Linked DNA regions of Homo sapiens: regions 2, 3 and 4 are each linked to region 1. The links come from fine-mapping of genetic effects on gene expression. A gene starts in region 1. Each other region holds a variant in brackets. All regions are shown on one strand. Distances are between the middles of the regions.

Region 1 (8,101 bases):
GTGCTGCCGGGCTACAGCCCCCTCAGGAGCAAGGCTGTCCAGCTCACTTCCTGTCTGCAGGAAATACTGGGAACAGAGGGAGAATGCAGGTGAGGCCATGAAGCAGCCACCACATTTGTGCAGAAGGTGGGGCATTCTGCCAGATGCCCGGCTGGCATCTTCAATACGTCTGCGTCAAAGGGAGCAGAATAGGGCAGAAGAGAAGGACTGGGAGAGACTCGAGAAACAAAACCACCAGGTTTGAGGGATAATCTTTGAAGGATTTGAACAAACCTGCTGTAAAGACATTTCAAAGGGGGTCGGGCACAGTGGCTCATGCCTGTAATCCCAGCACTTTGGGAGGCTGAGGCAGGCGGATCACCTGAGGTGGAGAGTTCAAGACTAGCTTGACCAACATGGAGAAACCCTGTCTCTACTAAAAATACAAAAAAATTAGTTGGGCATGGTGGCACATGCCAGCTACTCCGGAGGCTGAGGCGGGAGAATCGCTCGAACCCGGGAGGTGGAGGTTGCGGTGAGCCGAGATCTCGCCATTGCACTCCAGCCTGGGCAACAAGAGCGAAACTCCGTCTCAAAAAAAAAAAAAAAAAAAAAATTTCAAGAAATTTGAATGACCAGGTATTGGATGACAGTCAAGATTTTTGCTAATTTTGTTAGTGTGATAATGGCGGCTGCATGGAGAGGTGTCTTTAATGAGATACAAAGTAGCCTGAAACCTGTAACTCAGTATCCTTTAGCCAAGGAAACTGATGAAGTGCAGCCGGCACTGCAGCAGCAGCAATCCCTTCCACAGTGTATCCTCTTTACTGGCCTGTGCTGGAAACCATGTATCAAATATCCTGACAACTGGGCCATGAGGAAATACCCTTGTCTTTAGCTGCCACCACTGGGGTGAGCGGAGGTTGGCCCAAAGCCGCGGTGCCATCCAAGGAGGCAAGAAGGAGTGGCGTGTGCCCCATTTCCAGTGGTGGCTGCACAAAAACGTATCCAGATTGCCAGGGGCACGCCTGGTCCCCACAGCTGGTGAAGGCCTGGCTCCACCTGGACTGCAGTAGGGCCAGGCTGTGGCCCCTGTTTCACGCCCCCCAATTCAGAGTGATTCTGGGCCGCTTTTCTGCCTGGAGTTTCCCCGTTCTGAGGGCCCACTGCCCGGTGCGCCTTCTCTCTGCCCTTCCCTGACTTCCTCCAGTCTCCCCAGGCTGGGTCCGAGGGCCTGCAGTGACAATAGGCTGGCTGGGCCCAGGCCATTGGCTTGGCCCCCAAGAGGACCCCAGCACCTCCCTACCCTGCAATCTCTTGCTGTCAGGCTGCAGCAGATCCTTCTGGAACAACGTGGGGTGGACACTTTTCTTGTATAATATTAGTTTGCCTGTGGAAAGTGTTTCTTTTCTGTACATGAAAGCTCTGTTCAGCTGTAAGAGCCAGATTTACATCTTCCTGTTTTTCCCCAAAGAGCAATCTTTGGTGTCTTTACTATAAAAACGTCATGTATTCATTATTTAAAAATAAATAATACGGAAAACTTCCAATATAAAGTAGAAACTGAAAGACCCCGTGCCCTACCTCTCAAATCCCTACAACATTTGGGGTACAGTCTTCCAGATGCCTTCTTTCTGAGGCCGGGAAGCTTGCAAAGGCACTCCCTGTCTGCGCACCCCTCTTGTGTGGAGTACGCCATGGGTGTTTTCTGTTCTCCATATACCAGGAGAAACCAGCCACCTCTCTTGGATGTCTCCAGGGCCCCACTTTGTTAATGCCCCACAGGCTGAGCCCCCAGCCTACTGAGGGGGCTTTGGGCATTTCTGAGGCCTCGGCTCCAGCTCTTGGCGGCTGCGAGGTCTTTTGAGGAGTAGCGCCCCCACCACAGGTGAAGGGCATGGCCGCCCCCTCCAGGGCCAGAGCCACTTAGCTGGGGGCGTTAGAGGGGTTTCTCTGTTTTCTCCTCTGTTGAATGGGGCAGTGATTGCTGCCTCTACTTCCAGGCCAAGGTGTAGCCATTGTCAGTAGCGCCCAGGTAAGGGCACAGCTCGCCAAGTGCCAGGCACTTTTCCGGGTGCTGGCAATGTGAAGAAGAAACACGTGGTGTCTGTCCGGGACTGTCTCCCGGAGCCTCAGTGAGGACAAGGCAGCCAAGAGCAGAACTACAGGCAAGGTAGCCTCTGGAGGGGACTCTTGATCTCCAGGTTGGAGGAGGCTGAGGCAGCAGAGGGGTTGTAGACAGGTGGGCTCATGCCTGAGGCCTGGCAGAGGCAGCGCTGGGAAAACAGGAATGAAACTCACCAAGCGCCAGCTACCCTGGGAGTCCTGATCCCAGTGGCCCTCAGCTCTGGCTGCATGTCAGTGTCATCTGGGGACTTCTTTGTTTTGACACAGGGTCTTGGTCTTGCTCTGTCACCCAGGCTGGAGTGCAGTGGCATGATCACAGCTCACTGCAGCCTCTAAATCCCAGGCACAAGTGATCCTCCCACCTCAGCCTCTCAAGCAGCTGGGACTATAGATGCACCACCATGCCTAGCTAATTTTTAGATATTTGGTAGAGATGGGATCTCATCATGTTGCCCAGGCTGGTCTCGAACTCTTGGGCTCAAGCAATCTGCCCACTCGACCTCATTACCTAATTGCATCTGTGAAGACTCTATTTCCAAATGAGAATCTTCCAAGGAGAGAAACCACCAACCACCAAGAGAAAAACACCACCACCACAATCATTCCAGTTCCAGCAGATCTCCCAGGGAGCAGGTCCAGCTGCCCCCAGCCCCAAGGCCCAGCTCCCTCAGAGGATCCACCCACCCGGATGCCACCCCCACCAACCCCAACATCCAGGAGCAGGGGGATCCCATTACTGCAAATGGTCTTGAGACTTTATTAGATGGGAGGAAGGACCCTCCAAACTTCAAATGCCCAGGTTCTTGTGTCATTTCTATCATTGTTTATGCTTCCGCAAAGCATAAAGCATGACCTTTGTAGAAAAGTCTGAAAGTCTAAATAAGTAAAATAGGAATTGAGAGCACACACACCCTCTCCTAAAACACAGATGGCCAGACAGGACTGAGCACGCTGTGTGGGTCAGGCCTCAGCCATGCACCGGTCACCTCTGAGGGGTTTTTATGTTTTTTGTTTTAATTAGTTTTTTTTTTATTTTTTATTTTTTGAGATGGAGTCTCGCTCTGTCGCCCAGGCTGGAGTGCAGTGGTGCGATCTCGGCTCACACTGTAAGCTCCGCCTCCCGGGTTCACGCCATTCTCCTGCCTCAGCCTCCCGAGTAGCTGGGACTAGGGCGTCCGCCACAATGCACGGCTAATTTTTTTGTATTTTTAGTAGAGACGGGGTTTCACCGTGTTAGCCAGGATGGTCTCGATCTCCTGACATCGTGATCGGCCCACCTCGGCCTCCCAAAGTGCTGGGATTACAGGCTTGAGCCACCGCGCCCGGCCTTTTTTTTGTCTTTTTGAGACAATGTCCCCCTCTGGTTACCCAGGCTGGAGTGCAGTGGCCCAATCTCTGCTCACTGCAGCCTTGACCTCACGGGCTCAGGTAATTCTCCCACCTCAGCCTCCCAAGTAGCTGGTATTACAGGCCTGAGCCACCACGCCTGGGTAATTTTTTGTTGTTGTTGTTTTTGGAGCAGGGGAAGGGTGCTCTATGTTGCCCAGGCTGGACTTGTTGCCTCTGCCTCCCAGAGTGCTGGGTTTACAGGCCTGAGCCACGGCGCTCCGCATTAATTTCTTTTTAGAGATGAGGTTTCACTATGTTGCCCAGGCTGGACTTGAATTTCTGGGCTCAAGGAATCCTCCTGCCTCAGCCTCCCAGCTTACCTCTGAGGTTTATAACCGACGCTATGTTCTTAATCCCTCAACCAGGAGCCTTTAAATGGTTTCAAATTTTCCCCATTACAGGAATAACTTGCTAATAATAATAATAATTAGCAATTGTTTCAAAAGTAACGTCATCCCAAAAGAGAACGTTTCTGAAAAAAATGCACATTAGACTTGAAGACCCCCAATGGCACGGTTGAACATGGAAATGAACCAGCCTCAAAAGTCCCAGCGTAGGGGTTATTTTCCAATCAAATTGGATGCCTTTCTACAAAATGTGATGTGCACAGGCTGGGGCTGGTACCTTCACCCCAGCCCAGAGGGCACCATGAGAGGGAGAACAGGGCGGGCGAAACAGGCCAGCTCCTCCCCAGCCCTCTGCCCTGCTCTGCTTCAGGGGGCTGATCTGAGGGCCCAGTGCGCACTGCTTTTCCTCCTTGTCCGACAGGGTCTCCCGCAGGCCAGAACTAGGCTGCTGGGACACTGCGGGGCTCAGGGCGTGGGGGAAGAGATGCAGGCAGTGGCTAGTCCCGTCCTGTCCGCGGAGGTGACCCAGCCCCGACCTCTTCGCAGAGGAAGTGTTCTCCAACCTGGGACCTGGGGGATGAGCGGGGGTTAGGCTTACGTCCCAACCACTAACGGGGCTGGTTGAAAACGGCTCCCAGGCGGAGGGGCCCTCCGCGATGTTCTCAAGGAGTAGCGCGAGGGGACGACATGGGAGGTGGGGTTCTCACATCAGCGGGCGCACGGAGTGCTGGAGGCACCGACCCGCCGCGGACGGGATTGAACTAGGGAACTGGGAGGGCGCAGGAGATAAAGACGGCTGGGGCCGGGGCCCACGGAGAGGGGTGGTGCCCAGTGTCCCGCGAGGATGTGGTGCCACCCGGGGAAGGTCCCGGGAGCGGGGACCCGGGACCCCCCGGAACCACACACGCGGTCTCCACCTTGCCCCGCCCCATTTAAAGAGGCGGAGGAACGCAGGGCGCGCGCCGCGCGGAGGAATATTTGCATATGGCGCGGCGTTTCTTCGGAGGCTTGTGATTGGTTGCTGACTGCGGCGCGAAGCGCAGTTGACTTGCGCCGCGCTCGGCGAATCGCAGCCTGTCTTGCTCGCGGAGAGAGGAGCTAGGAGCCTCGGCCAATGGGAGCCGGCGTTGTTGGAGGCCACGGCGGCGCAGCCCCAAAGCGAGCGAAGCTAGGGTCGCCGCCACTGCCGCAGGAGGCGTGAGGTGCGGAGACACGGGTGCTGGGCCGGTAACGGCGCGCTGGGGAGGGCGGCCGGGCCCGGACGGGCGGGTGGGGCCGCGGGTCCGGCGCGGGCGCGGCGGCGGCCATCTCTGGAAGCCTCGGGGCGGTGGGGCAGGGGCGGGGCCGCGTTCTGGTCGGGGCAGGCAGCGGCGGCCGCGGCGGGGCCTGGGGCTTGGGGCCTGGAGCCCGGGCCTGGGGCGCTGGCGGGAGGCCCCTCCCAACTCCCGGCGCGCCTCGCCCGGCTGCCCGCCTCACTGAAGGTCAAGGCGCTTTGTTCTGCGCCGCGGGCGGCCTCCTGGGCGGCGGCCCCTTGGAGGAGGCGAAGACGGCGAGAGGCGGCGGCCGCTCAAATCTCCCGCTAGCCCAGCCCGCCCCGCGTGCGGGGGCTGTGGCGGTTACACGGCCGGGCGCGCCGGAGCGTTCAGGCTTCCCGTTTTTAAGGTGGAGACGTCCAGGACTTCTTTATTAGATGTTTAGGAATTTGAGTTTTTCCGTAGGGCGGTTGTCATCGTGAGCCTCTGTGGGGTCAGGCTGGGCTAACTGGGGTTTTGATGTCAGTTTGGTGTGGCCGAGGGCATGTCTGACGGGGAAGAAAGTCCTTGGCGTTGCTTCTTAGCTGTTGGGAGCTGTGCGGTGGGAGCGAGCTGGGCGGCGTGCGCTCCCCGAGGACTGGCCTGAGTGGCCTTAGACTAGTTACTCACGGGACTTGGTTTCCCAGCCAAGGTGGGCAGCAAGTCTGTTTACTATTTAAAACCGTCTTTCACAAGGGAAAAGCAAAATCTCCAAAAAAAAAAATTGTACATGTTATGGATGGGAAAGTGCCATGCTTTTCTTTCAGTTCAGAGATGGTGGAAGAGGTCACATTTGTATTTTTTGACCTGACCAGAGTCTTTGTTGTTTTCAATTTTCCCCTTCTGAATGCTTTCCGTTCACCCCAGCGAAGGATGGCCTGGTCATGATAAGACTTTCCACCGTCCACAGTTCTCTAAGTCTGATTGCGGGGCAGGAGGCAGACATGTTTAGGGTCCAGTAAAGGGGACTCCAGCCTTGGGACCTTTAGACCCTAACGTGTGTGTCACATCACCTGCCTGGGTGACTGTGCGCTCCTCTGGCAGGAAGGTCCGCCATTTCATTATGTTCTCGGAGGAATCGTCGGGGCACATTCGTCTGTGCTTTGGTTCGCATCCCCCAGTCTGCATTACTTTTTCCTGTAGTAACCCGTGCCTTATCCTCCTGCATTAGGTTTACGGGGTGAAAATAGACTTTTAAAAATTCTCTTACCTTAGAAATATACAAATATGTAGATTAGGTTGTTGGACCTTAAAGGTAAGTCTTTCTAAGTTACTACCTTCCTGTAATAGTAACTATACCTCTAAATGACTAATACCTGCACTGCGCACCAGGGACTCTTTCAGCCTGTTTGCGTGTGTTAACTCATTTCATAATCTAATAACCTGAGATAGATGCTATTGTTTTTCCATTTAACTACTCTGGAAGCTGAGGCCCTGGGAGGTTAGGTATAATGACTTGTCCGAGGTGACAAAGCTTAAAGACCCAGGCAGTTTTAACTGTACCCAGGGTTACTGCTTCTGTAGAGGGAATGAAAGAAGTTTTAATGAGAAATTGTTTTCATCATTGTGCTAAGCTTAACTGAACTCTAGCTTACGAGGTTTTGAGCTGGTTGATCATTTCCATCTCAAAATTCTCTTATTCCACAGAATGCCAAATGCCTCCTATAGTAGAATTTTGAGATTCAGACTGGGATGAGCAATTGCTAATGGAATAAATAATATGCAAATGTAAAATGAAGTTCAGAGAAAGCAACGTGGTGATAGAATGGGAAAGTAATCCAAAGATAAAATGAGTGACTACAGAGAGAGAGAAAATTAGTTATTTAGTAGTAGTTCACAAGTTTACTTAGAGATATTTTTACTAGAATTTCAGGGCCTTATGATGTGATTTTTATGAACCATTTTAACACGTTACTGCCGTCTTAAATAGCTGTTATTACATATCCAATTGCAGTCTTTTTTTTTTCCTGGTTGAGCAGTGTTAGCTTCAGAATGTCTGCAGTTATTTGTGCCTATATGTCATATAGGCACATATAACACTTTTGTGAATTTTGTTGTGTAAGCTTTAAATCCGGTACTGTTTTTCAAAATGAATATGGAGTAGTCATTGGAGAAATTGGTTGAATTCTTTGCAGTAGCAAATAAATTTTAATCATTTTTAAGTTTGATAACTTTGGTAAACTGAATTCTGAAAAGTTTACACATGTTTTAGGATGTCCTCAAAATGTACAGGGCATTGTGTTTTGCAAATTAGCCATTTAGCCATCAGATTCTTCTGTAGAATTTTGATCTTTTTGCCCATATGAGAGGTAGTTCTTATTTGTATGGAGGTTAAGTACCTGCGGATGGGATGTGTTCATCACCACTTTACAGTATGAATTTGAATTTGAAACTGAAATGAAAACTTCCTAACCTGTCAGAGTTTTTAGTAGCCTCTTGTTATTGACCGCATGTTAATTCCCTTTGTTAGCTATTCGCAGCTAAGTGTGGGGACTGAAATCTTTATTTTGTTTTCCTTCTTTTGAGCAGTTGATAGTCTCTAGCATCAGGAGGAGGTGACCTCAAATATGTATGTATATATAGTAGTGCTTTTCTTCCTTCCCTTTAGTTGTCTGCAGTTTAAAAATTATTGTGATAAGTTTATGTTGTACTTCCAAAAATGTTGCCAAAGAGCCTATATTTTTCAGTTTGTTTTGGAAGAAAAATACTTTGTGGGCAAGAAGGTGATTTAAATTCCTGACGGCCTAAGAGGCGTCAGCTGTGTGAAATAGGCGAGTGCTGTTACTGCTTGAAACCATGATGGTTTATATTTGAATAAGACAGCAGAGATGAGCTTGTTGGGAGTTTGGCCTGAGATTGCTAGCTAAGGAATGCTTGCTTTTTTGCTTAAAGGGAAAAGTGTTTTAGGCTTCCAGAGTAGAAATCTGATATTACTTCGTTTGATTCTTCGACCACTATGGTGATAGG
Region 2 (8,101 bases), 54 kb after region 1:
AGGCCCAGGCCATTGTCAGCTCAGGAACCTCAGCCATCAGTGGTCACCGAAAGTCGCTGAGTGGTTGAGAGGTTTGCCCAGAGCCACCATCTGGAAGGCAGCTGGGAAGTGGGGGCTTGTGGCGGCCGCCCAGCCTGGCCTGGGTGAAGGGTGGCTGCTTCCCTTCTGGTCCTGGAGGCCAGGGGGTCTGCCACAGAACCTCAGCTCTGCTAGCCCAGGCCCTCCTTTTTCCCGACTCAGCCCCTGGCTGGGGAGGCAGACATTCACCGTCCAGCCCCGCCCCACCCACCCCACCCCGCTTGGGGCTCCCCCAGCCCCTGCCCTTCCTGTGACTGTTCACCCTGTGCGGGAACTGAGACTCAAAACCAGTGGCGCTGGGGTCAGGGCAGGAGTTTGGGGAGCAGCCCGGGAGATGGGAGGTGGGGCCTGGGGCACCCCCACCCCCTGCACAGGTGGCTCAGACGCTTCTGTCAGCTGCCATCACACGGGTGCTCCTGGGCAAGGAGGGAAAGAACCCGCACGGCAAGCAGCCAGGCACAGAAGACCTGGAGGGCCCTGTTTCTGTCCGGTTCTAGAGCCTGCAAAGCTATAGTGCCGGTGACTGCCTGGGAGGGATCTGGGGTGGGGGGACTGACCAAGGAACGCTTTAGAGGGATGGAAGTGGTTACACAGGTGTATACGTCTGTCAGAATTCATTGAGTTACATCAAAAATGGGTATATTTGGTTGTATATAAGTTAGTCCTCAATGAAGCTCAGCGTTGTTTTTTTTTTTGAGACGGAGACTCGCTCCATTGCCCAGCCTGGAGTGCAGTGACACCATCTCGGCTCACTGCAATCTCCACCTCCCAGGTTCAAGCGATTCTCCTGCCCAGTCTCCCAAGTAGTTGGGATGACAGGCATGCACCACTGCACCTGGCTAATTTTTGTATTTTTAGTAGAGATGGGGTTTCACCATGTTGGCCAGGCTGGTCTCGAACTCCTGACCTCAGGTGAACTACCCACCTTGGCCTCCCAAAGTGCTGGGATTACACGTGTGAGCCACCGTGCCTGGCCTGAAGCTCAGTTTTCAGAAGTCCCCAAAACAGGGTGATTCCACTTAAAATTCTGTTTTTTCCCTTGAGTCAGGAGCTATGGCTCCCTAGAACCTGATGGCTGCTGCTTTCCCCAGCAGGGTCACCTGGGACCCTTGTCCACAGCTGCCTGGCGTGTGGGTCCGCGGGTGGTGTGTACCCCAGGTCAGCCTACCTGGCCAGTCTGCTCTCTAGGCTCATGACTCCCGTTTATGTGGAGCTGGGACCAAGCCGACATCCCACTCTGCTCCTGTCCTGCTGCCCAGCAAACCTCCCCAGGCCCAAGGGCCACCCATGGGGCCAGAGCCCCCTTCCCCAAGTCCCAGGTCCAGGGCTTCCTGCCACCCCACCCATCTTGTCCCACTCTCAAAATGCCCTAGGCTGCCCCCAGCCCCATCGCTGGGCAGGCTGAGTCAGCATGAGCTGCCAGGATCCAAGCTTGCCCCTGAGGTGGGAGGCAGGGGTGGGGTGGGTAGGGGGCAGCCAGCTGGCTCCACCAGCCAGCCAGGTGGGTAGGTGGAGCCCCTGGCCTCTGCCTGGCTCATCCAGGCACACCTTGATATTACTGACCTCTGACCTGCCCCTGCTGGGTCCTTGGCTTGCCTGGCTCTGAGTCAGGGCTCAGGGCTGGGCAACTGGTGAGCAACAGAGGAACAGCCAGGGGCAGCGGTGGGAGAAGTGACCGTCCCAGACTCAGCCAACTCCAGCTGCAGTGCCCTGAGGGAGCCCTGGGCCTGCAGAAGGGGTTGCTGTGTGCAGAAGCCTGTGGTTCCCTGCCAGCCAGGCCAGCCTGGCCACAGCCTGGCATGGACTTCGGCCTCTGCCCCAAAACCCTCAGAACAGGTGCCTTCCCAGGTTCCTTCTGCTGGAGCAGGCACCTCCTCCCCAGCCCGCCCCAGGGAGCATCCCCATGTGGAGTGGGGGGCCCAAGGGACCCCAGGCCCAGCTGTTTGGACCCCACCCACCAGGAGACACTGGCAAGCAGTGGCCCCCAACAGCAGGGCCTCCTGGAAGGACGCCTCCTCGGGCTGGCCCTGGCTGAGCTTCTGATGCGCTGAATTTGGTGTGGGTTTCCAGGCACCTCATGCGCCTGGGACATTCCCCATTTAAGAGATGCAGACCCGAGTCTCAGGACAGAAGCCAGGGCCCAGCTCTTGCAGGGTGAGGCCTGGACGCCTCTTGCCGAGGCCAGGTCACCTTGGTGTGCCTGAGGGAGGCCCCGCCTGCTAGGCTGTCCCCAAGGTGCCAATCACTAGCCCATCCTGGCCATGCTGACTCATGGCTCTCTGAGGGTGGCAGCCGGATGTTACTTACCATGACAACCCAACAGCCTGGCCCAGCCCAGCCCAGCCCAGGAGAAACGGGGCAGCTACAGCTGTGTCCAGGACCCCACTCAGGGCGGACCCACACAGATCACCCTTGTCGAGCTCCTCAAGAAGTCTGTGGTGTCCACCAAGTTTCCAAATCTCCCTAGGTCTCAGTTTCTGTATCTGGGACATGGGGAGAAGCTTCACCTCCTCAGAACCCAGACCCTGGGCATGGCAGGGCTGCCCACACCGGCCCTCACCAGTGCCTGCCTGGCTGGAAGCCAGTCCGAGGAGGGAGGACAGTGCCTCACTGAGCAAGGCGGGTGCAGGGCTGGGAGGACAAGAGGGAACGCCTGGAGATGGGGCCTCAGGTGCAGGCACTGGCCAGAGTTGCTAGAGTCTGCTGCCCCCAGCCTGGGGGCCGCCAGCGAGGGCCTGAAGTGGTCCCTGGGTCTCAACCTGCCCCTTTTCAGCAGGGGCTGCCCTCCCCAAGGACCAGAACACCAGACCTTATGTGGGGACCCTTCCTCGTCATCTGGGGGCTCCAGGCATTCCTTGGCTTGCAGCCACTTCCTTCCGATTTCTGCCTCTGTCTCACGTGGCCTCCTACCCCTATGCCTGCTTCTCCATAGTTCTCCCTTGTGAGGCCCACCTGGGTAGTCCAGGGGAAGCTCCTGCTCTCAGGGGCCTTTCCTATATCACACCCTAGCCACTAAGGTCATGTTCACCCATTTGCCATCAAAGGTAACATTCGTGGGTTTCAGGGAGTAGAACATGGATATGTCTTATTGGGGGCCACCATTCAGTCCATGAAAGGGGTCTTTCAAACAGACCAAAGCACATGAAGAGGGGAAAAGACAGCCACGCCAAAGGCCACAGACACCCAGAGAGATGGCTGCCCCCACCCCAGGGATAGAGAAATGTGTGTGAAGACCTCAGTTTTTGACCACCAGATTGTGGGGTTTTGTTGTTGTTGTTGTTGTTGTTTTGTTCGTTTGTTTGGTTGTTTGGTTTTTCCTGAGACAGGGTCTCACTCTATGGCCCAGGCTGGAGTGCAGTGACACTTTCTCAGCTCACTGCAACCTCTACCTCCCAGGGTGAAGCAATTCTTCTGCCCCAGCCTCCCGAGTAGCTGGGATTACAGGTGCATGCCACTGCACTAGGGTAATTTTTTCTATTCTTAGTAGAGACAGGGTTTCACCATGTGGGCCAGGCTGGTCTCAAACTCCTGAACCCAAGTGATCCACTCACCTTGACCTCCCAAAGTGTTGGATTACAGGCGTGAGCTATTGCCCAGATTGACTTTTTTTTTTAAGTACAGAGTGCCCACCATTGGCCTAGCCATGGGGAGATTGGCATTGCAGCCCTTGGGGGAAAGGGT[G/A]AATAGGAACAGCCCCACTGGCAGGCCATTTTGGCAGTTACCACACATCTGAGGGCCTTGCTAGCCCAGCAGTGCCATGTCTGGTGTGCAGGAAGGCAGTGCCATGTAAGATGACAGCAACAGGGACCCAGCCCAAGCCCAACCATCACAAGGGGTGGCTGAGACATGGAGGATTCCAGATAATGAGGGCTGGGGTGGGGGGTTCCTGGAAGATGGCCCAGACAGAGGAAGAGACACAAGCTCATACCCCCGCCTGCATGGATATTCATATGTAAATGCATTTTTAAAACTGGTAAAGGGTACATCACAAGTTACATTCTTAACCATTTTTTAAAGTGCACAGTTCAGTGCCACTAAGCATAGTTACACTAAGCATATTCACACAGCATATTCACACTAAGCGTATTCACAGCGTATTCACACTAAGCATATTCACACCGAGCATATTCACACCGAGCATATTCACACTAAGCGTATTCACACTAAGCATTTTCACACTGAGCATATTCACACAAAGCATATTCACACAAAGCATATTCACACCGAGCATATTACAAGCATATTCACACCAAGCATATTCACACCGAGCATATTCACACCAAGCATATTCACACTAAGCGTATTCACACTAAGCATTTTCACACTGAGCATATTTACACCGAGCATATTACAAGCATATTCACACCACACCGAGCATATTCACACCGAGCATATTCACACCGAGCATATTCACACTAAGCGTATTCACAGCGTATTCACACTAAGCATATTCACACCGAGCATATTCACACTAAGCGTATTCACACTAAGCATATTCACACTAAGCGTATTCACACTAAGCGTATTCACACTAAGCATTTTCACACTGAGCATATTCACAGCATATTCACACAAAGCATATTCACACCGAGCATATTACAAGCATATTCACACCAAGCATATTCACACCGAGCATATTCACACCAAGCATATTCACACTAAGCGTATTCACACTAAGCATTTTCACACTGAGCATATTCACACCGAGCATATTACAAGCATATTCACACCACACCGAGCATATTCACACCGAGCATATTCACACCGAGCGTATTCACACTAAGCGTATTCACACCGAGCATATTCACACCGAGCATATTCACACCGAGCGTATTCACACTAAGCGTATTCACACTAAGCATTTTCACACAAAGCATATTCACACAAAGCATATTCACACCGAGCATATTACAAGCATATTCACACCACACCGAGCATATTCACACCGAGCATATTCACACCGAGCGTATTCACACTGAGCGTATTCACACTAAGCATTTTCACACAAAGCATATTCACACAAAGCATATTCACACCGAGCATATTACAAGCGTATTCACACCAAGCGTATTCACACCGAGCATTTTCACACAGCATATTCACACCGAGCGTATTCACACCGAGCGTATTCACACCGAGCATATTCACACTGAGCATATTCACACTGAGCATATTCACACCGAGCATACTCAGCATATTCACACTGAGCGTATTCACACTGAGTATATTCACACTAAGCATATTCACACTGTCATGCAGCCGCCATCAGCATCTGCCTCCATGATTTCTCATCTCCCCAAATGGAAACTGTGTCCCTATTAAACTCCCCATTGTCCTCTCCAGCTCCTGGCACCTGCCCTCCTACCTTCTGTCTCTGAATCTGACGACTCTTGGGACCTGGTACATGTGGAATCATTCAGTACTTGTCTTTTTGTGTCTGGCTTATTTCACTCAGCATAGTGTCCTCAGAGTCCATCCGTGCTGTAGCTTGTGTTAGAATTCCCTTCCTTTTTTTTTTTTTTTTTTTTGAGATGGAGTTTCACTCTTGTTGCCCAGGCTGGTGTGCAATGGTGCAATCTTGGCTCACCGCAACCTCCGCCTCCTGGGTTCAAGCGATTCTCCTGCCTCAGCCTTCCAAGTAGCTGGGATTACAGGCAGGCATCACCACGCCTGGCCAATTTTTCAGGTGATCCACCTGCCTTGGCCTCCCAAAGTGCTGGGATTACAGGTGTGAGCCACGTGCCCGACCAGATTTCCCTTCCATTTTAAGGCAGTGACTATTCAGTGTGTGTGTGGACCACATCGTGTGTGCCCATTGTCAGTGGATACTTGGTGGCTTCTACCTTTTGGCATGCTGCTGGGAATATGGGTGTGCATGGATCTCTAGGAGAGACTCTAACTTTTAGTTCTTGTGAGCATGTGAATGAGAAGTGGAATTGTTGGATCACAGGGCAATCCTATATTTAATTATTAAAGGAGGTTGGGTGCTGTGGCTCACTCCTGTAATCCCACCACTTTGGGAGGCCAAGGCAAGTGGATCACCTGAGGGCAGGAGTTCAAGACCAGCCTGGACAACATGGTGAAACCCCATCTTTACTAAAAATACAAAAAAATTAGCCGGGCGTGGTGCCACATGCCTGTAGTCCCAGCTACTCAGGGGGCTGAGGCAGGAGAATCACTTGAACCCAGGAGGCGGAGGTTGCAGAGAGCCAAGAACGTGCCACTGCACTCTAGCCTGGATGACAGAGTGGGACTCCGTCTCAAAAACAAACAAACAAAAATCAATTGTTAAAGGAAATGTAAATGCTTTTTTAAAAAGGATGAGGCCAGGCACAGTGGCTCACACCTGTAATTCCAATACTTTGGGAGGATGAGGCAGGCGGATTGCCTGAGCCCAGGAGTTCAAGACCAGCTTGGGAAACACAGTGAGACCCCATCTCTACAAAAAATATACAAAGTAGCCAGGCATGGTGGCATGTGCCTTGTAGTCCCAGCTACTCAGAAGGCTGAGGTGGGAGGATCACAACCTCAGGAGGTCAAGGCTGCAGTGAGCCATTATTGCACCACTGCACTCCAGTCTGGGTGACAGAGCAAGACCCTGTCTCAAAAATTTATAATAATAATAAAACAAAAAGAGGCCAGGCTCAGTGGCTCATGTCTGTAATCTCAGCACTTTGGGAGGCTGACATGGGTGGATTGCTTGAGCTCAGGAGTTCAGGACCAGCATGGGCAACACGGTGAAACCCTGTCTCTACAAAAATACAAAAAATTAGCTGGGTATGGAGGTACACACCTGTGGTCCCAGCTACTCAGGAGGCTGAGGCGAGAGGATTGCTTGAGCCTGGGAGGCGGAGGTTGCAGTGAGCCAAGATCACGCCACTGCACTCAGTCTGGGCAACAGAGCAAGACCCCATCTCAAACAAACAAACAAAAAAGGATGAGAGTGGCCCTAGGTGGGGACATGAGAGATGAACACTCAATTTTGTTTTTATTATTTTTTTTTTTTTTTCATTTTTTCTTGCTCTGTTGCCCAGGCTGGAGTGCAATGGTGCAATCTCAGGTCACTGCAACCTCCACCTCCCAGGTTCAAGCAATTCTCCTGCCTCAGCCTGCTGAGTAGCTGGGATTACAGGTGTGCACCACCATGCCCGGCTAATTTTTTTTTTTTTTTTTTTTTTTTTGCATTTTTAGTAAAGACGGGGTTTCACCATGTTGGCCAGGCTGGTCTCCAACTCCTGACTGCAAGTGATCTGCCTGCCTTGGCCTCCCAAAGTGCTGGGATTACAGGCGCGAGCCACTGTGCCCAGCATCAATTCTGAAATAATTCGAGCCTCTTTTTTACTTTTTATATCAACAATTGGTTAATATTTTTGGTAGGCGTGTTTTTTTTTTTTTGAGATGGAGTCTCGCTCTGTCACCCAGGCTGGAGTGCAGTGGCACGATCTCGGTTCACTGCAAGCTCTGCCTCCCGGGTTCACGCCATTCTCCTGTCTCAGCCTCCCGAGTAGCTGGGACTACAGGTGCTGGCCACCACACCCGGCTAATTTTTTGTATTTTTAGTAGAGACGGGGTTTCACTGCGGTGTTGATCTCCTGACCTTGTGATCCACCCGCCTCGGCCTCCCAAAGTGCTGGGATTACAAGCGTGAGCCACCGCGCCTGGACTTTTTTTTTTTTTTTTTAAGAGATGGAGTCTTGCTGTCTTGCCCAGGCTGGTCTTGAACTCCTGTTTTCAAGTAATCCTCCCACTTGGTCCTCCCAAAGCAGCCCTGGATTACTGGCACAAGTCACAGCACCTGGCCTATCTTTGGTAATTTTTTAACGTTGGAAATAATTAATGACAATACACCTGCCAGGGCTCCCCCAGACCGGCGGAATGAGAAGTTCAGGCCAGGAGGGTGAGCATCTGCGCTGTGAGAAGGCTGCCCCAGCGATTCTGCAATCTGAGCCCTGTGCAGGGCATGGGGCCACCTCAGTCCTCCCTCTCTCCCTTCCTGTATTTTGTTTGTTCCTTTGTTCATTGG
Region 3 (8,101 bases), 21 kb before region 1:
TGGCTGTAGCACTCGGGAGAATAAGGGCGTTGGCTGTCTTGTGTCCCCCCACAGCACGGCAGTTGCGGCTGGCCTTCCTCATGCACTCGTGGAAGGACACCCTGGACTACTCCAGCAACACCATGGAGTCAGCGCTTCAATATGAGAAGTTCTTGAATGTGAGTCCCCAGCCCCTTCCTGGAGGTTGGTGGAGCAGCCTCCCCTGCACAGTGGGCACCTTGTGCAGTGGTGATAGGTGCACCAGCCTCCCGATGTCTCTAATGGAGACCAGCACATGGGTGGAAGCACCTCCATGCTAGTGGGTATAACAGGCTCGGGGCCACTCCTGAAATGGCTGACGGCTCAGCAGAGTGGACAGAGGCCTCGTCCTCCTAGTCACTGCAGTGCACGTCCTTCTGACTTGTACTTTCCACCAAATGAGCATCTGTAAACCTAAAGCAAGAGCATGTTTCTGTCAAAGAAATATCTTTTCCTTTCTTTCTGACCACTTGTGTAATTCTGGTCTTTCAGATTTTTACCAAAAATAAAATCACAGCAGTAGAAAGTTGTAACAGATATTTCAGGATGGAAAAGTTGCCTAAATGCTGTTAAACTGATTTTTCTAACTTCAGGAGTTTTTCTTAAATGTGAAAGATATCCTTCGCGCTCCTGTTGACATCACTGGTCAGTTTGAGAAGTGGGGAGAAGAAGAAGCAGAACTGAATAAGAAGTAAGGTGGTGCCATTTCTTTGGGGTTTTTGAGCATGCCCATGTTCTATGCCTAGCCTCGCATCTTGGCCACCATGTGTCCTGGACTGTCGAGGAAGGGCTGGGGACACTGTCGTACGTTGTGCAGAATTAATTCAGGATAGGCGGCTCTGCTAATGGGAGCTGCTCTGGGTGTTGAAGTGCATGGAGAATTTCTTTTTTGTTTTTTCTTTTTGAGACGGAGTTTCGCCCTTGTTGCCCAGGCTGGAGTGCAGTGGCGTGATCTCGGCTCACCACAACCTCCACCTCCCGGGTTCGAGCGATTCTCCTGCCTCAGCCTCCCGAGTAGCTGGGGTTACAGGCATGCGCCACCATACCTGGCTAATTTCAGATTTTTAGTAGAGGTGGGGGTCTCTCCATGTTTGTCAGGCTGGTCTCGAACTCCCGACCTCAGGTGATCCGCCCACCTCAGCCTCCCAAAGTGCTGGGATTATAGGCGTGAGCCACTGCGCCTGGCCACATGGGGAATTTCTATGGTGTGTTTTCAGGTCTGACTTCACATTCCTTCCTCTTTGTTGCTCAGCTTTTATGACAAGAAGACAGCAATTCACAAAGCCCTCTGTGACAATGTTGACACCCGCACCGTCATGGAAGAGATGCGGGCCTTGGTCAGTCAGTGCAACCTCTATATGGCAGCCCGGAAAGCCGTGAGGAAGAGGCCCAACCAGGCTCTGCTGGAGAACATCGCCCTGTACCTCACCCATATGCTGAAGGTAAGCCAGGCCCCAGGCAGGCGTATCCCTCAGCCTGTGTGGACACAGGAGCCAGGCCCCAGGACTGGGAGAACAGAGGCCTCTGGTGCCCCCCAGTGCTGTGCCTGGTGCCCAGCACCTCTGAGACGTGGAGATATGCTTCTGTCCTCTTTGGTTCCTGGTGTGCTTTTCACGCGTTAGAAATAACACCCATAAGCGGAGCACAGTGGCTCACATCTATAATCCAACACTGTGGGAGGCCAGGTGAGTGTATCACCTGAGCCCAGGAGTTCAAAACCAGCCTGGACAACATAGTGAGATCCCGGGTCTATAAAATATATTAAAAATTAGCCAGGTGTGGTGGCACACACCTGTTTTCCAGCTGCTTGGGAGGCTGAGGTGAGGGGCTCGCTTGAGCCCAGGAGGTTGAATAGTGAGGTGTGATTGCACTACTGCACTCCACTCTGGGCAATAGAGGGGAGACCCTGTCTCAAAACCAGACAAAAATAAGTAACATCCATATAGTTGTCCTTACTCAGAGCTATTTCTTTCCTTTGACTCCGTTTCCCTCTACTCCCATCTTGGAGTTTGAAAAGCAAAACCACGCCAGGCGCTGTGGCTCACGCCTGTAATCCCAGCACTTTGGGAGGCCAAGGCGGGCGGATCACAAGGTCAGGAGATGGAGACCATCCTGACTAACACGGTGAAACCCCGTCTCTACTAAAAAAAATACAAAAAACTAGCCAGGCATGGTGGCGGGTTCCTGTAGTTCCAGCTACTCGGGAGGCTGAGGCAGGAGAATGGCATGAACCCAGGAGGCAGAGCTTGCAGTGAGCCAAGATTGCGCCATTGCACTCCAGCCTGGGCGACAGAGTGAGATTCCATCTCAAAAAAAAAAAAAAAAGAGAAGCAAAACCAGGGACAAGGCCTCCTCTCTGAACACATCCTGTGCAGAGCCCTTCCCCGCAGTGCACCTTGAAAGGCCAGCAGGGCCTGGACTCAACTCCCCTCCCCTCTCCTCCTCTTTCCTTGTTGTTGGGCTCCAGTGGCTTCTGGCTGAAACAGAGCTGGAGAGGGTAGCTGTGAGTCAGGGCCATCCTGGAGCAATGAGGGCACCCTCAGGCTCGGGTTTCTGGGGCTCCTGGAGCTGCTGCTTCCATCTCTTTCCTGGTCTTGGGGCACCCCCTCCCGTGAACGAGGAACACAGCTCACAGCTGCTCGCCACATGCCGCCTTCATCTTGCCGCAGCTTCAGGTCCCATCTGTTTCTTTTCCTAGATCTTTGGGGCCGTAGAAGAGGACAGCTCCCTGGGATTCCCGGTCGGAGGGCCTGGAACCAGCCTCAGTGTGAGTAGCATGCAGGGTCCTGCCTTCTGCACCTGCTCCCTCCCCACTCCCTACCCCTCTGTGTCCCTCTGAACTGCCCCTCCTCTGTCTGCCCACCCACACCAGACCCTTCCGGACAGCGCCTCGAGCTAAATGGCAATTCTGGCTCTGAGAGTGCTAAGTGTGGTCAGCTGCCCTGCCGGTGTGGAGGGTCTGCTTTGGTTGTGACTGTTGGTTTGGGGCACTTTGCCATTGTGCTGTCCCATGAGCTTGGTCTTGGACCCCAACTACATAGGCCGCTGCTTATTTGCATTTTGCTGCGGCCACTTGGCATCATGAACACACATGACTTCGTCACATATACTGACCTGTATTCAGTAAATGCTTCATCGAAAGGCTGCAGAGCTCACAAACAGCACAGAATTTACACTGATGGGGAGATACGCCACTGTCTGCCTCGGTCCCCATGGGGCTGGGCAGATGCCCTAACAGGCCCAGTCCTGACCCTGAGCCCAGGTCGGTCCACATGGCCTGAGCCAGGACCCCCTGCCCCAGAGCTGTGGCCCACAGGTCAGGGGGAGGTCATCCTGTAGAGCCCCCTGTCTAGTGGGTCTGTGCGGTGAGAAAATCCATCCAGAACACCCTGGCAGTCTGTTGCTGGCTTCTGTTTGCAGTTGGCATGTGAGCAGACACACACTGTCAGTCCT[G/A]TCCTTCTGCTGTAGAACCCCTGTCCCGTCTGACACACCCACAGTCAGGCTTCTTAAAGATGGACTTCCACCTGCTCCCAGGTCAAGAATGCTCTTTGACTATTCGATTAGAATGCAGATCTAAATATTTAAATAGAACAACTGTAATTTTAATTAAAACAGGAGCTTAATACAAAGTCAAAATGCAAAACCTTTTTAAAATCCTGTTTCCTAATGACAAGTGGTGTGAAGAGCCCCCATGCGGATGGAGCTTACAGATGCTCCCCCAGGAACCAACTTGCAAAGAGAAAACAGTCCGTGTTGTAAGAAGTCCTGCCAGAGCACCTAGCCCATGTGCCTGGTGCCTTTTGCCAGCCTTAGCGCTAGCTAGCTTGGTTGTGGTAGTTGGTGTGGTATTTTTGAGACTTCCTGATATGAACCTTCTTTGGTGCTTTTAAGAAAACCCACATAGCTTCTTTGTTCTCTTGCGCAAATGATACTAAGATATTTATTTTCTTTAAAAACAAAAAACCAAAACACACCTCCTGGGTTAAAGTCAGCCTGCCTTTGAACTGCAGTGTTTTTCATCTTAACGGCTGCTGTGGTTGTGGGGGTGCCTTCAGCGTGCTGTGGACACGCATCCGCATCCCCCAGGCAGCCTCATTTGGCCTTTGCAGTCAGCTGATTGCGAAGAAGCAGCTGCGGCGAATGGTGAGCCTGCTGACAAAACGTCCTGTGCCCACACATCATGGCCATTTGACGTTCATGGATTAACTTCCAAATCCAAATGGTTTTAGGAGCAAGGGAGGCAGTTCCTCCATCTTGTACCACCTCAGTGTCGCCACACAGCCACCTGCTAGCATGCTCAGGTGGGGGTTGCAGCCCCAGGCGTTCTTGAGACACACCCCTGCAGCCATTCTGAGAGTTCCCCTCCAGTGCCCCTAGGGCTGGAACTGAGCCTAGCAGTGGGGTGAATGCCTCCCTTTCTGTCCTTCCCCAAGGCTTGTCTGGGCTGGCTGTGTGGTGGGTGGAGATACAGATCGAAAACCCCCAAGAAGTCCAAAGTTCAGATGCAGAATTGGGTCTCAGGGAGCTTGGCTTAGACTTAAGGGCTTGCTAGCCTGCCTGACTTTTGCACTTGCTAAATTTGTGTGTTTCTGTTTTTGAGACAGAGTCTCACTCTGTCGCCCATGCCAGTCCCTGCCCTGTGTCGTGGCCGCTGAGCTATTATTCAGTTATGGATATAGGAGTGTGAGCAGCTCTCAGCGAACAAAAACTCTTCTTTCCACAGCTGGAGTGCAGTAGCGCAATCTCCGGTCACTGCACCCTCTGCCTCCCGAGTTCAAGTGATTCTCCTGCCTCAGCCTCCTGAGTAGCTGGGACTACAGGCATGCACCACCATGCCCGGCTAATTTTTTTTTGTATTTTAGTAGAGACGGGGGTTTCACTATGTTGGCCAGGCTAGTCTTGAACTCCTGACCTCATGATCCACCCACTTCGCCCTCCCAAAGTGCTGGGATTACAGTTGTGAGTCACCGCGCCCAGCCAGCACTTGCTAATGTTTTTATTTTGGTTACTGAGCTGCTGAATCAGCTAAGGGGCAGGGAGCAACCTTGCTCAAAAGCCTAAAACCTTTTCTGTCCTATTAGAAAAAGAGAAATGCTAGCACAGCATGGTGGCTCACGCCTGTAATCCCAGCACTTTGGGAGGCTGAGGTGGGTGAATCACCTGAGGTCGGGAGTTCGAGACCAGCCTGACCAACATGGAGAAACCCTGTCTCTACTAAAAATACAAAATTAGCTGGGCGTAGTGGCGCATGCCTGTAATCCCAGCTACGCGGGAGGCTGAGGCAGGAGAATCGCTTGAACCTGGAAGGTGGAGGTTGCGGTGAGCCGAGATCGCCATTGCATGCCAGTCTGGGCAATGAGAGCAAAACTCCATCTCAAAAAAAAAAAGGGGAAATGCTTTGGGAGGCCAAGGCGGGCAGATCACAAGGTTAGGAGATTGAGACCATCCTGGCCAACAAGGTGAAACCTCATCTCTACTGAAAATACAAAAATTAGCCAGGCGTGGTGGCGCTTGCCTGTAATCCCAGCTACTCGGGAGGCTGAGGCAGGTGAATCGCTTGAACCTGGGAGGCTGAGGTTGCAGTGAGCCGAGATCACACCATTGCACTCCAGCCTGGCAACAGAGCAAGATTCCGTCTTAAAAAAAAAAAAAAAAAAAAAAAAGGGAAATATAGTAGAAAGGTTTTTCTATCCTGTGGCCACCTCCCCAGTGTTACTGTGGGTGGTGAATCTACGTGTAGCTGCTAATGTGCATGTAGATAGTAGGTGCTTAATGGAGATCATTCATCTTAAACAAGTGTATGTGTGACCACAGATCAGACGAAAGCACGGCCCGGGAGCCGCCAGCCTCAGCATAGGTAAGGCCCCAGCCTGGGGAGTGATGTCCTTGGGCTCCTTAGGAAATAGTCCCTCCCAGAGCTGGCCCCTCTGAAACCATAAAGACAAGCTGTTTCACAGCAGCGTGTCTGACCTGAGGAAAGCAGGGCCTGTCAGCAGCTGGGCAGAGCGGCGGCAGACCCACCTGCTGCAGTAGAAAGGAAGCTCACTTCATGCTCTCTGGCCTGAGAGTCTGTGTGACTCGCACACCTAGCAGGGACTGTGTGTCAGGGACGAGAGCGTCCAGGCTCTGGGATGCCGGTCACAGCTGTAGTGTGCACAGCAGCACTGCCCATGCCAGTCCCTGCCCTGTGTCGCGGCCACTGAGCTATTATTCTGTTATGAATATGGGAGTGTGAGCAGCTCTCAGTGAACCAAAACTGTTCTTTCCGCAGCTCGAGGCCACAGTCATGCCCTACCTTCAGGTGTTATCAGAATTCCGAGAAGGAGTGCGGAAGATTGCCCGAGAGCAAAAAGGTGAGGACCAGTTGCTGGAAAGAGTGTGGGAGCCACTCCCCTCACTGGGCTCCCCGGACCGGGCGTCTCCCCCGAGGCACTATGGCGTTCAGGCCGGATCATCCTCTGGGAAGGCTGCCCCGTGCACCACAGGGTGTTGAACGGCATCCCGGGCCTGGACCCACCAGGTGCATTAGTACCACACGCTCCAGTCACCACAGCCCCACATGTCCCTGCAGGGCAGAATCCTCGAGTGAGTGCAGCTGAGTGGGCAGTGGGGACCGAGGATGTGATATGATGGGCCAGGGTTGATTTGCCTCTCCTTCTCTGAGCCGAGGCAGAATGGTGGGTCCTCTGACCAGCCCAGTCACCACCTGCCATTTGGCTCACACTGGGGCTTATTTTTGTTCCTGGTGACCTGGTAGGCTGGGTGCGCTGAGGTGTGGCTCGTTCCTGCTGCCGAGTGGAGCCGAGCTGCAGCTTCCAGGGTTCCCTTTTCTGCTCAGGCATGCCAGATGAATGCTTGAACTTGGGGTTCACACAGTGGCCCCTCACTGTCCATAAGCAGCCATTCCTTCATCTTTTTGTTTGTTTGTTTGTTTGAGATGGAGTCTCACTCTGTCTCCCAGGCTGGAGTGCAGTGGCGCGATCTCGGCTCACTGCAAGCTCCGCCTCCCGGGTTCACGCCATTCTTCTGCCTCAGCCTCCTGAGTAGCTGGGACTACAGGCGCCTGCCACCGCGCCCGGCTAATTTTTTGTATTTTTTTTTTTTTTAGCAGAGATGGGGTTTCACCGTGTTGGCCAGGATGGTCTCGATCTCCTGACCTCGTGATCCACCCGCCTCGGCCTCCCAAAGTGCTGGGAGTACAGGCGTGAGCCACCGCGCCTGGCCATTCCTTCATCTTTTGAAATTTCTGAGATGTGTGTGGTTTAAGACTTAGAAAGTGCTGAATCTGAGCATTCGTTTTGACTGCCAGTTTTAAGAAAGTGTTAAACACAGCAAAAAGCAGCATCAGGCAGGCCTTTGCTTCTTCCTGTGAGTGGTTCTGAATTGGTGAGTAACAGCACAGCTGGGAACACACACTGAGGACTTAGGATGTGCTGGGCCCTGCCCACTGCTTTCTGCACATTGCCTCATTTACCACCATGATCCTCCAAAAGAGGAAAGGAGAGCCCTGGCCGGGTCACACTGACCTCGAGTGCTACTCCATCACCTGCTGTGCTAATTCTCCCTCCCCAGGGGGCCTCTGTGTGGTGGGAAGTCTGACCTAGGATCCACCTGGTCCCCATCTGTGCAGAGCCCATTATGGAGGGTCACAGTGGGGCAGCATCCAGGCAGGGCATGCTGAAGACAGAGCAGACAGAGACCCAGCAAGCCTCTAGGAGAAGCTGCACCTTGAGGAAGGATCAGGAAGCCTGGGTGGGTGGAGGGGCCGAGAGGCGGAGGAGCCGAATCTGGGCCTGTTTCGGGCAGGGGACAGTGGAGCAGGAGGCAGGAGGGCAGGAAAGAGTTTCGGGAGCTCGGGGCTCCACAGGCTGCAGGAGAGTGCAGGACACTGGGTGAGAGGAGAGGCTGGCCGGGCTGCTGGGCTGCTGGGCTGCCACAAGTGCTCTGGAGAGGGGCCTGGGCCTGACTGAGCCCCTAACAGGCAGCGGTGGGCGCACTTGCCCTGACCACATAAGCACCATCGCCCCTTTCCAACACCTGATGCCCTCAGCATTTCAAAGCACTGGAATCAAACTGAACCAAG
Region 4 (8,101 bases), 35 kb after region 1:
CTTGAGCGCTTGCCTACCTGGATACACAGTGCACACGTGTGCCACACGGCTCCTGCCACACCACATGGTGTGTGCACAGTGTCACCCTGCTGCCACATCACACAGGCTTGGCTGGGGGAATAGTTGTTACTGCAGCCATTGGCTATAAAACAGTTTAACATTCCCCTACATGCCCCACCTCCCCCATTGTAAATTGTTGCATTATGATCAGCATACTTGAACCCAAATTTGTGTTAAATTAAATGTTTGATGGTTTCCTTAGTTTAGGTTCCTTTCAGTGTACTTACCAGTCAAAGAAGATGAAGCTTTAGAAGGCCCAAAGGTCGTTCAGTTGGGATTACAGACATGAGCCACTCAGGCCCTGCCTAATTTTGCATTTCTTTAGTTGCTTGTAAGATTGAGCATGGTTAGCATATTTATGGCTTACCTGGCTGTAGTGCGTGTGTGAATGAAGCAGTCTTATTTTCAAGCCACTTTTCATTTGGGCAGCTAAACAGTTTCTTGAATCATCTTCAGTTGTCTTTGGGTTACTCTTGACTGAACAAAGGCAGAGGGGAGAGAAAAAAGGAAAATAGGAAGAAACATGAATCTATCTATAGAAAAGTAGGCTGGGTGTGGTAGCTCATGCCTGTAATCCCAGCACTTTAGGAGGCCAAGGTGGGAGGATTGCTTGACCCCAGGAGTTCAAGACCAGCCTGGGCAACATAGGGAGAACTGGTCTTTAAAAGAGAAAGTAAAAAGGAGGGGAAAAAATGAGTAGGACATGGTGAAGGACCACAAGTCTAATAGTACTATTTGTTTTATTGGGGCCACCCCATGCCCTGGGTTGGTTGTCCACACTGTGGTCACAGCCTTAAACAGTTCTGGAATCATAGCAGTCTCTCCATTGGTTGGCTACTTGTCTTCCCTCTTTATGTTGGTTTTTTTTTTTTTTTTAAGCCGTGGAGGGTTGGGAGAGAAATAGGCATTTTATTTGATGCTGATTCCCTGTAGCTGCCTCTTCCTTTCCTTGTGATTTTTGCCAGGCAGGTGACTGGCCTTTCGTTTGTGTGGTTCATCTGCAGTGCCCTACCCGCTTCCTTTGCTCTTGCCAAGGCCAGTGGAGAGCTCCTAGCCAGATCCTGCTGTCATCCCTTCTAGAAACCGACTAGACTGTCTCCCTGATCCTGACTTCCTAAGCCCTCATGCCCCGCCTCCTCCTCCACCTTTCTTTGAAAGTTGTTTTTTCACTTCTCCTTTGTGCAAGTGGTTTGTTTGAATGTATAAACTTTTTTTGCTGTATATTTTTTTTAGTCCTCTTAATTTCCCCCCCGTTGATGGTTTTACCATTACAATGAAAATGGAAACAGCTGACATTTAGCCAGCCTTGCCTATAAACGCGGCTCTAAGTGATACAGATTAACCACCAAGGCAGCTCCTAGAGAGGGAGAGAGTTATTTCCAGTGTAGAGATGAGGAAACTAAAGCACGGAGACATTGAGTAGCTTCCGCGAGTTGCCTAGCAGTGTAGGCAGAGATGGGATTTGAATCCAGGCTGTCTGAGCGTAGAACTGGTCTTGTAAACTGTCTATAAATTACTCAACCAAGCGCATCTTCCATGTTTTTCTTCTATAAATAGGGATGAGGTCAATGTCTTTGCACATATCGATGCATCCATCCAGGTATTTTTCTCAAATAGAACAAATTCCTCAAAATAGAATTACTGAGTCAGGGAATATGCCTTTTAATTTAATTTTTTTTGATATTGCCAAATTGTCCTTCATAAAATCTGTCGACAGTACATGAGTGTGCTCAGTACCCCAAAATCCTGGCCGGGTCTACATATTTTTGTACATTTTGCCCCAAAGAAAGGCATCTCATTTTGGTGTTCATGTGTTTTGTTACTCGTGAGCATGAATGCCTTGTTGCTGCTGTTGGTTGTTCTATGCCTGCGTTCATGTTTGCATCCTTTTTCCCGGTGTGCTCACGTCTCTTCCAGGTCTGTAGCGTGCTTTGTAAGTGAGGGATGAGCTTTCTGTCCTTGTAGAGATTTGTCCTTTTCTCCCACCCACCTCCCGGGAGAAAAGCTGTGGGTCACTGCTTTCACTGCACAGCACAGAGTAGAGACCCTGGCTTCCCCCAGCAGGGTGGGGGCTGGGGCTTAGGCTGAGCGGAAAAGGACAGGAGGAGGATGGACTGCTGGTCCCCTTACTTTCCCCTAGTCACCTTCCCTCCTTCCAGGAAGCAAGGGCTGGGAGCAGCTAAGAGAAGCTAGGATTTCTTAGGAGAGCTTGACGCCTATTGGTGAGGAGGCATTGGAGGGGGAACATGCCCCTTACTCATGAACTGAACAGATATTTCCCGCCAGTCCATCGTTGGTTTTTTTAACCTCACGCTAGTCTTTTTTGCGGTGGAGAAGTTTTTCTTGTTCATGGCCCTATCTGTTGAGCTTTCCCAAAATAGCTTCTAGTAAGTGTTGTGTACTCCAAGCAATCTGTCCTCGTTATTTTTCTATTTTAACTGGTGCTTACTCTGAATTTCTACTTTTAGTCTTTTGTGTTAGAGTTCCACTTTGAACCCAACGACTACTTTACCAACTCAGTCCTGACAAAAACCTACAAGATGAAATCAGAACCAGATAAGGCTGATCCCTTTTCCTTTGAAGGTCCTGAGATTGTGGACTGTGACGGGTAAGAAAATGTCATTCTACCTTGTTTTTCTGAAACAAAATCAAAAGATAATTTTGTAACTTGATGGGTAAGATAGAAGTAAGGAATAAAGTACAGTCTTGAGTCTGCTTAAAAGCCTAAAAGCCTGGTAGATGTATATTTCAATAGTCTTTCAGTTTGGGAATGCTCATAGTGCAGAACTTGGAGATGGCGGCTGAACCTGGGAAATGAGTCACGTGGTTGCACATGCAAGCCTTTGGGATAGTGCCCTGTTTCTTCATTTTAATGAAAGTAGTGGATTCTCTAGACATCGTGAATTGAAGTTCTTAAAATTGAATCCATGGATTACCCTCAGCAAATAAATACTTATTGAATGAATGAGTCTGAGTCCAGGGCTATATTGATCAGCTGATTGCTTTGGAAATAGGTGGGGGCAGCATAGCTGTTGTTTGACTCACTGATTTCAGTCTTTATAAATCACTAAAGAGAGAATTTGGTTTAGAATTAATTTCTCCAGGTTGGGTTGACTGAGAAATGGTTTTAGTCTTGACTTGAAACAATTACGTTTATTTACCAGAAGTAAATAGTAATTGTTAATTCAGGACTTTATTAAAATCCTGCTAGAGTAATTTAGAAAGATGATTTTCCAGGGCCAGGACATCATGTGAGAAAAAGGCCTGGCCTTACCAAGCATGTTCTTAAGCGGGCAGTATTGAGATCTGCCAGGTGTTGCCTGGGTCTGTGGTGATTGTGTGTTAGAGAGAGCGTGCTGTGCTCAGCCCTCGCCAGCATCCCTGGGGCTGGAGTGGTCTGCACTGGCCATCAGTATTCCCGGTGGCCACCTCTTTCCTTTTTTCAGCTTGTCGTGCTCAGTTGGCTGCTTTGAACAGCAGCAACTCCTCCTTCCTTGGGAAACCGCGGACAAGTTCTTGTGCATCATGCAGACTTGACGGGGCTTTGCCACAGAATATACATTTCAGAGTCCTGATGAAATGTCTTGGGAAAATAATACCATTGTTCCAGAAGTCTGAAGTTCCAGTGGTCACACCCAAGTTGAAAGAGGACCAGGCTGTTTCTCTTTTTGCCAACCTCCAGATGAACTTCATGGGCCATTGTATTTGGTTTGCAGATTGGTTTTATTTCGTTTTCCAGGTTTGGCATAGAGCTGTGGTTTGCTTCCTGCATGCATTTGTAATGGATTTTTCTCATGGATTGTGTGTTCCTGACAGCTGTCTTGTCCTGGTAGGTGTACTATTGACTGGAAGAAAGGAAAGAATGTTACTGTCAAAACCATCAAGAAAAAGCAGAAGCATAAGGGTCGAGGCACTGTTAGAACAATTACGAAACAAGTACCCAATGAGTCCTTTTTCAACTTCTTCAATCCATTGAAAGGCAAGTCTGTTGGTTGTTAATATTCATTATGTTCTTATATAAAATAATTTTGGTCACCTGATAGATTCCTAACACCCAGAGACTTTAGTCCTCTTTTTTCAGGCAAGTGTGGTCAGTAGGGGCACATTGCTGTGTCCCAGGCTGTTCTGTTGGTGCGCTGGCAAGTTTATCGCGGGGGGCAGAGGTAGCTAGGACAGTAAGAGTAGGATTGTCATCTTCTGCAGGAAAGGGAAGAGCTTTACTCTGCTTGGCTGTAGCCCAGGCAAAAACTTGCAGTTCTGTTTTAAGAAAACTGAATCGAGTATTTGCACCTGGGCTGCTTCCTCACTTGGACACCTGGAGCACCCTTCTCCACCAGCTGGCATTTCTGCCCCGCTGTTGTGTCTGGTTCGCACCCCCCGGGGACCACTCCCAGCCTCGGAGAGCTGCTGGGTTTGCTCTGCAGGTACCCGTTACTGCTGTACGCTGGTTCTAGTTGTGCTGCTTTTGGATCATCTGCTTAGTCCCCCTTTTCTTGTAATTTTTTATGCATAATTTGATAGAATTTTTTGGAATTTATATATTGTAAGAAACACAAGTAGTTGGGACTTTCATTTTTGAAAAACATCGGCAGAATCACAGCTTGGAAGCTGCTTCTTTTTGTTTATTTATTTATTTTTTAAATTTTCCTAAGTGGTAAAATAAAGATGAGACCTTTGAGCTAGTAAAGGTTGACCAATTGATTTTAAGAGTAAATTTCTTGGGATTTTTCATATAATTTCCTAATCGCGAGAAAATGTGAAGGTCAAGCAACTTGTCAGTGTTAAAATATCCATATTCTCTTTAGTTTCCATGAACTAAAACATAATTTGAAGTG[A/G]AGAGATGCCAGCCCCTGCTGCAGATAATCAGTGAGTGTTTGTTTGTATGTGGGGCCACAGGGCGGATCTCTTCTCCAGTCTGAGTGATTGATTTTTTGATTTTGTCTCTGAGCTTAGCACCCTTATTTATCAAGCTGCCCTTCAGAGTTCAGTCCATTATTTTAATTGTGGTGCCTATTTTCTGCAATTAGACTTTGAACCTAGAAGATGCAAATACATACGGTTTGGGGAATGAGAGCAGTCATAAATTTAGATATTACATTTCCTTTTTTTGGAAGATTCCTTTTAGACACTTGGGTTGGGCATACTGGAGATTGTCTGTGAATTCAGCGTGAAGAAGGGAGGCTTTAATTTCTGGAATCACTTTGTGTAGGAAGTTCTCTTAAAACTGATTTAAAAATAATTTTTAGGATAAAAATGGAGTTGATAATGGACTCAAGGGAATTTTTAAGTGTTTTTTTTTTTAGATTCTAAAACTTTTAGGGTATGATGGTTGCACAACTCTAAAATTAACGTACTGAAAGTCATAAAGTTGTACATTTAGAGTGTATGCCTTTTAATGGTATGTAAATCCCATCAGTAAAGCCACTTTTAAAGTAATCAAACACATAATACCAAATGGTAAGTGCTTTGAAAAAAATTGAGGATGGCTGCGGAATAGGTAATGGGGTAGTGAAGGAACAGACAAAATGGACTCCTGTGGTGTGAAGTGAAGGAGGCATTAGCTAGTGAGTCCAGCTCCTTTGTCCTTAAAACTGCAAAGCCAGTCCAGAAGTATGAGTGTTCAGAGTCCTTGTACTATTCATGACTTGGGCCAGAGTGCCCTGGGGAGCATGCTGCTCCAGCATTTAGACACCCAGCCATGCTCCTAACCCATGTCTAAAACCCCTGGGTGATGCTGGCACACCGAGGCTTGGGAACTCTGCCTCACTCATGGGTGGTGTTTACGCACCCAACATTCATGTCTCAGCAGCAAACAGCAAGTGCTGCCAGGGTTGTGGTCGCTTAATGGGAAGGGAGACTCAGAGAGGAGAGCCCAGTGAAGATTGAAAAGGCAGGTATGAGACTAAGCAGAGTAAACATTCAACTCCTGATGAAGCTCAGGGTCTTGTAGTAAATGTTTCTAAAATCAGGGGGTTGGATCTTCTACCAGTTGAACGTTGCACAGCTTCATTGAGTGTGGTTAGAAGTCCCTATCTGTCTTGGTGGGCTTAGCTCGTCTGAGCATCAGCTTTCGCTGAGGAATTGCGCCACTCTACAGGGGCCCCTGGTGGGCATTCCAGCACTCTCCAAACAAACAGAAATGCAGTTTCTGTCTCGCTGATTTGCAGTGCCTTAGTAACACTCACAGCTTATAAGGCTTAAGGACTTTCTCTTTCCTGCACCATCATGTATAGTTCTGCGGGACATGAGTTAAGTTTCCCCATAAAGCACAAATGCACTGAATGGCCACAGCCTGGGGGCTGTTTGCCATTCCTCCTGTTAATATATTAACTCTCTCAAAATGATCTTCTCAAGCTTGAGTGCCAGCCCATGGCACATGATGGAGGAGGAGAAGGGAGGGGGGCATAGAGGCACTCAGGCCAGCTTCAGAAGTGGTGGATGGAGCTTGCAAAGATGTCTGTGAGGAGATGCAAGGCTTTGGGGATTTCTGTTAAACCTCGAGGTGAGAAATGTTACATTTTATCTACCAGCACAGCTTCCTCCTGTGTGGGCTTTAAAATTCTGGGAGTTGTCACTGTAATTTAAATATGTTTTGTCTTTTCTTTTTCTAGCATCCGGGGATGGAGAATCACTGGTAAGATTTGTTGTTAATAGTCTTATTTTCCTGTTGAAGTCTCTCCTGAGTGAATGTCTACTTGTCTACTTGTTAAAAAAAGTCCAGTCCTGGCTGTGTGTGGACTGGGTATGCCAGTGATCTTAATGCTTTGGGAGGCTGAGGTGGGAGGACTGCACGAGTCCAGGAGTTTGAGACCAGCCTGGGCAACATAGCACAACCCCATCTCCACAAAAAATTAAAACCAAATAAATTAGCCAGCCGAACATGGTGGTTCACGCCCGTAATACCAGCACTGTGGGAGGCCAAGGTGGGTGGATCACCAGAGGTCAGGAGTTCAAGACCAGTCTGGTCAACATGGTGAAACCCCGTTTCTGCTTAAAATACCAAAAAAAAAAAAAATTAGTTGGACACGGTGGCAGCGCCTGTAATCTCAGCTACTCAGGAGGCTCAAGCAGGAGAATCACTTGAACCCGAGAGGAGGAGGTTGCAGTGAGCTGAGATTGCACCACCGTATTCCATTGGGCGACAGAGCAAGACTCCGTCTCAAAAGATAAAATAATAAATTAGCTGGACATGGTGGTGCACTGTGTAGTTCCAGGGTCGCTGGGGCCCAGGAGCTTGAGGCTGGAGTGAGCTGTGATTGCACCACTGCCCTCCAACCTGGGTGATAGAATAAGACCCTGTCTCTTAAAAAAAAAAAATCCATTTCTGTTTCCTAAAACTCTGGGATTAATTTGAAATCATTACACATCTAAGTAAAAGTATGTGTTTCATATGTTGATTTCAGTAGCAAATGTGCAGTGCTTTAATACTGCCTGTTTCCCATATGTGAGACTGATACCGCCTACTCTGGGTGAGACCTTTGGACAAGTTGTGGAGCTGTAGGGCCCTCACTTCCCACTTTCTCTGCCATTTTGCTTCAGTAGCTCTTTAAAGCTACTTAAAGTTGTTTTAAAGGGGCTTTGAGTGTCTAGTGGCTGTCCCCCAGCAGTGCAGGAGTTTGGTGTTTTAAGTTAAGTAAATCAAAAGTGAGGGGCTGAGGTTTGGCTGAGGGTGGTGAAGTGAATGTTTTTATCCCATTAAAATGAGTTAACACGTAGGTTTTTCCTCCTCAGGATGAAGATTCTGAATTCACATTAGCCTCTGATTTTGAAATTGGACACTTTTTCCGTGAGCGGATAGTCCCGCGGGCTGTGCTGTACTTCACTGGGGAGGCCATAGAAGATGATGACAATGTATGAGGCTCGGGGAAGGGGGGCTTCCACCTGGGTGCTTATCTCTGTTGGTGCAGAGTGGCCCTGAATTGTGGCTTAGGAAACCCCCATGCCTAATCTTTTTATTACATCATCAGCCAGATATGTAGTCCAAGCTGCTGTCCTTGTTGTGGGGGGAATACGCTTGAAGAGGAGAAGTCTGAGGAACAGA

What was found.
Region 2: its variant is fine-mapped to the expression of NAP1L4 in whole blood (TOPMed, PIP 0.98).
Region 3: its variant is fine-mapped to the expression of NAP1L4 in whole blood (TOPMed, PIP above 0.99). The same link has a PIP of 0.9 or more in blood mononuclear cells.
Region 4: its variant is fine-mapped to the expression of NAP1L4 in sun-exposed skin (GTEx, PIP 0.96).

Annotation. Positions count from the first base shown.
Region 1 is chr11:2,989,197-2,997,297 of GRCh38, reverse strand. It overlaps NAP1L4 (nucleosome assembly protein 1 like 4), which reads left to right and starts at 4,969. Exons shown (of 16, transcript NM_005969.4): 1 at 4,969-5,044. RefSeq lists enhancers at 4,705-4,999, 5,544-6,400.
Region 2 is chr11:2,934,970-2,943,070 of GRCh38, reverse strand. No RefSeq gene overlaps it. Among named protein-coding and RNA genes, the nearest start is that of PHLDA2, 9.6 kb to the right of the region's middle. RefSeq lists a silencer at 2,786-2,962. The variant G/A (reference allele first, on the strand shown) is at 3,760.
Region 3 is chr11:3,010,465-3,018,565 of GRCh38, reverse strand. CARS1 (cysteinyl-tRNA synthetase 1) reads left to right here. Exons shown (of 23, transcript NM_001014437.3): 14 at 55-158; 15 at 612-709; 16 at 1,271-1,460; 17 at 2,717-2,785; 18 at 6,290-6,371. Among named protein-coding and RNA genes, the nearest start is that of CARS1-AS1, 15 kb to the left of the region's middle. RefSeq lists an enhancer at 3,652-4,151. The variant G/A (reference allele first, on the strand shown) is at 3,472.
Region 4 is chr11:2,954,337-2,962,437 of GRCh38, reverse strand. It overlaps NAP1L4 (nucleosome assembly protein 1 like 4), which reads left to right. Exons shown (of 16, transcript NM_005969.4): 9 at 2,529-2,668; 10 at 3,894-4,039; 11 at 6,672-6,694; 12 at 7,792-7,911. Among named protein-coding and RNA genes, the nearest start is that of SNORA54, 5.5 kb to the left of the region's middle. RefSeq lists an enhancer at 1,089-1,595. The variant A/G (reference allele first, on the strand shown) is at 4,896.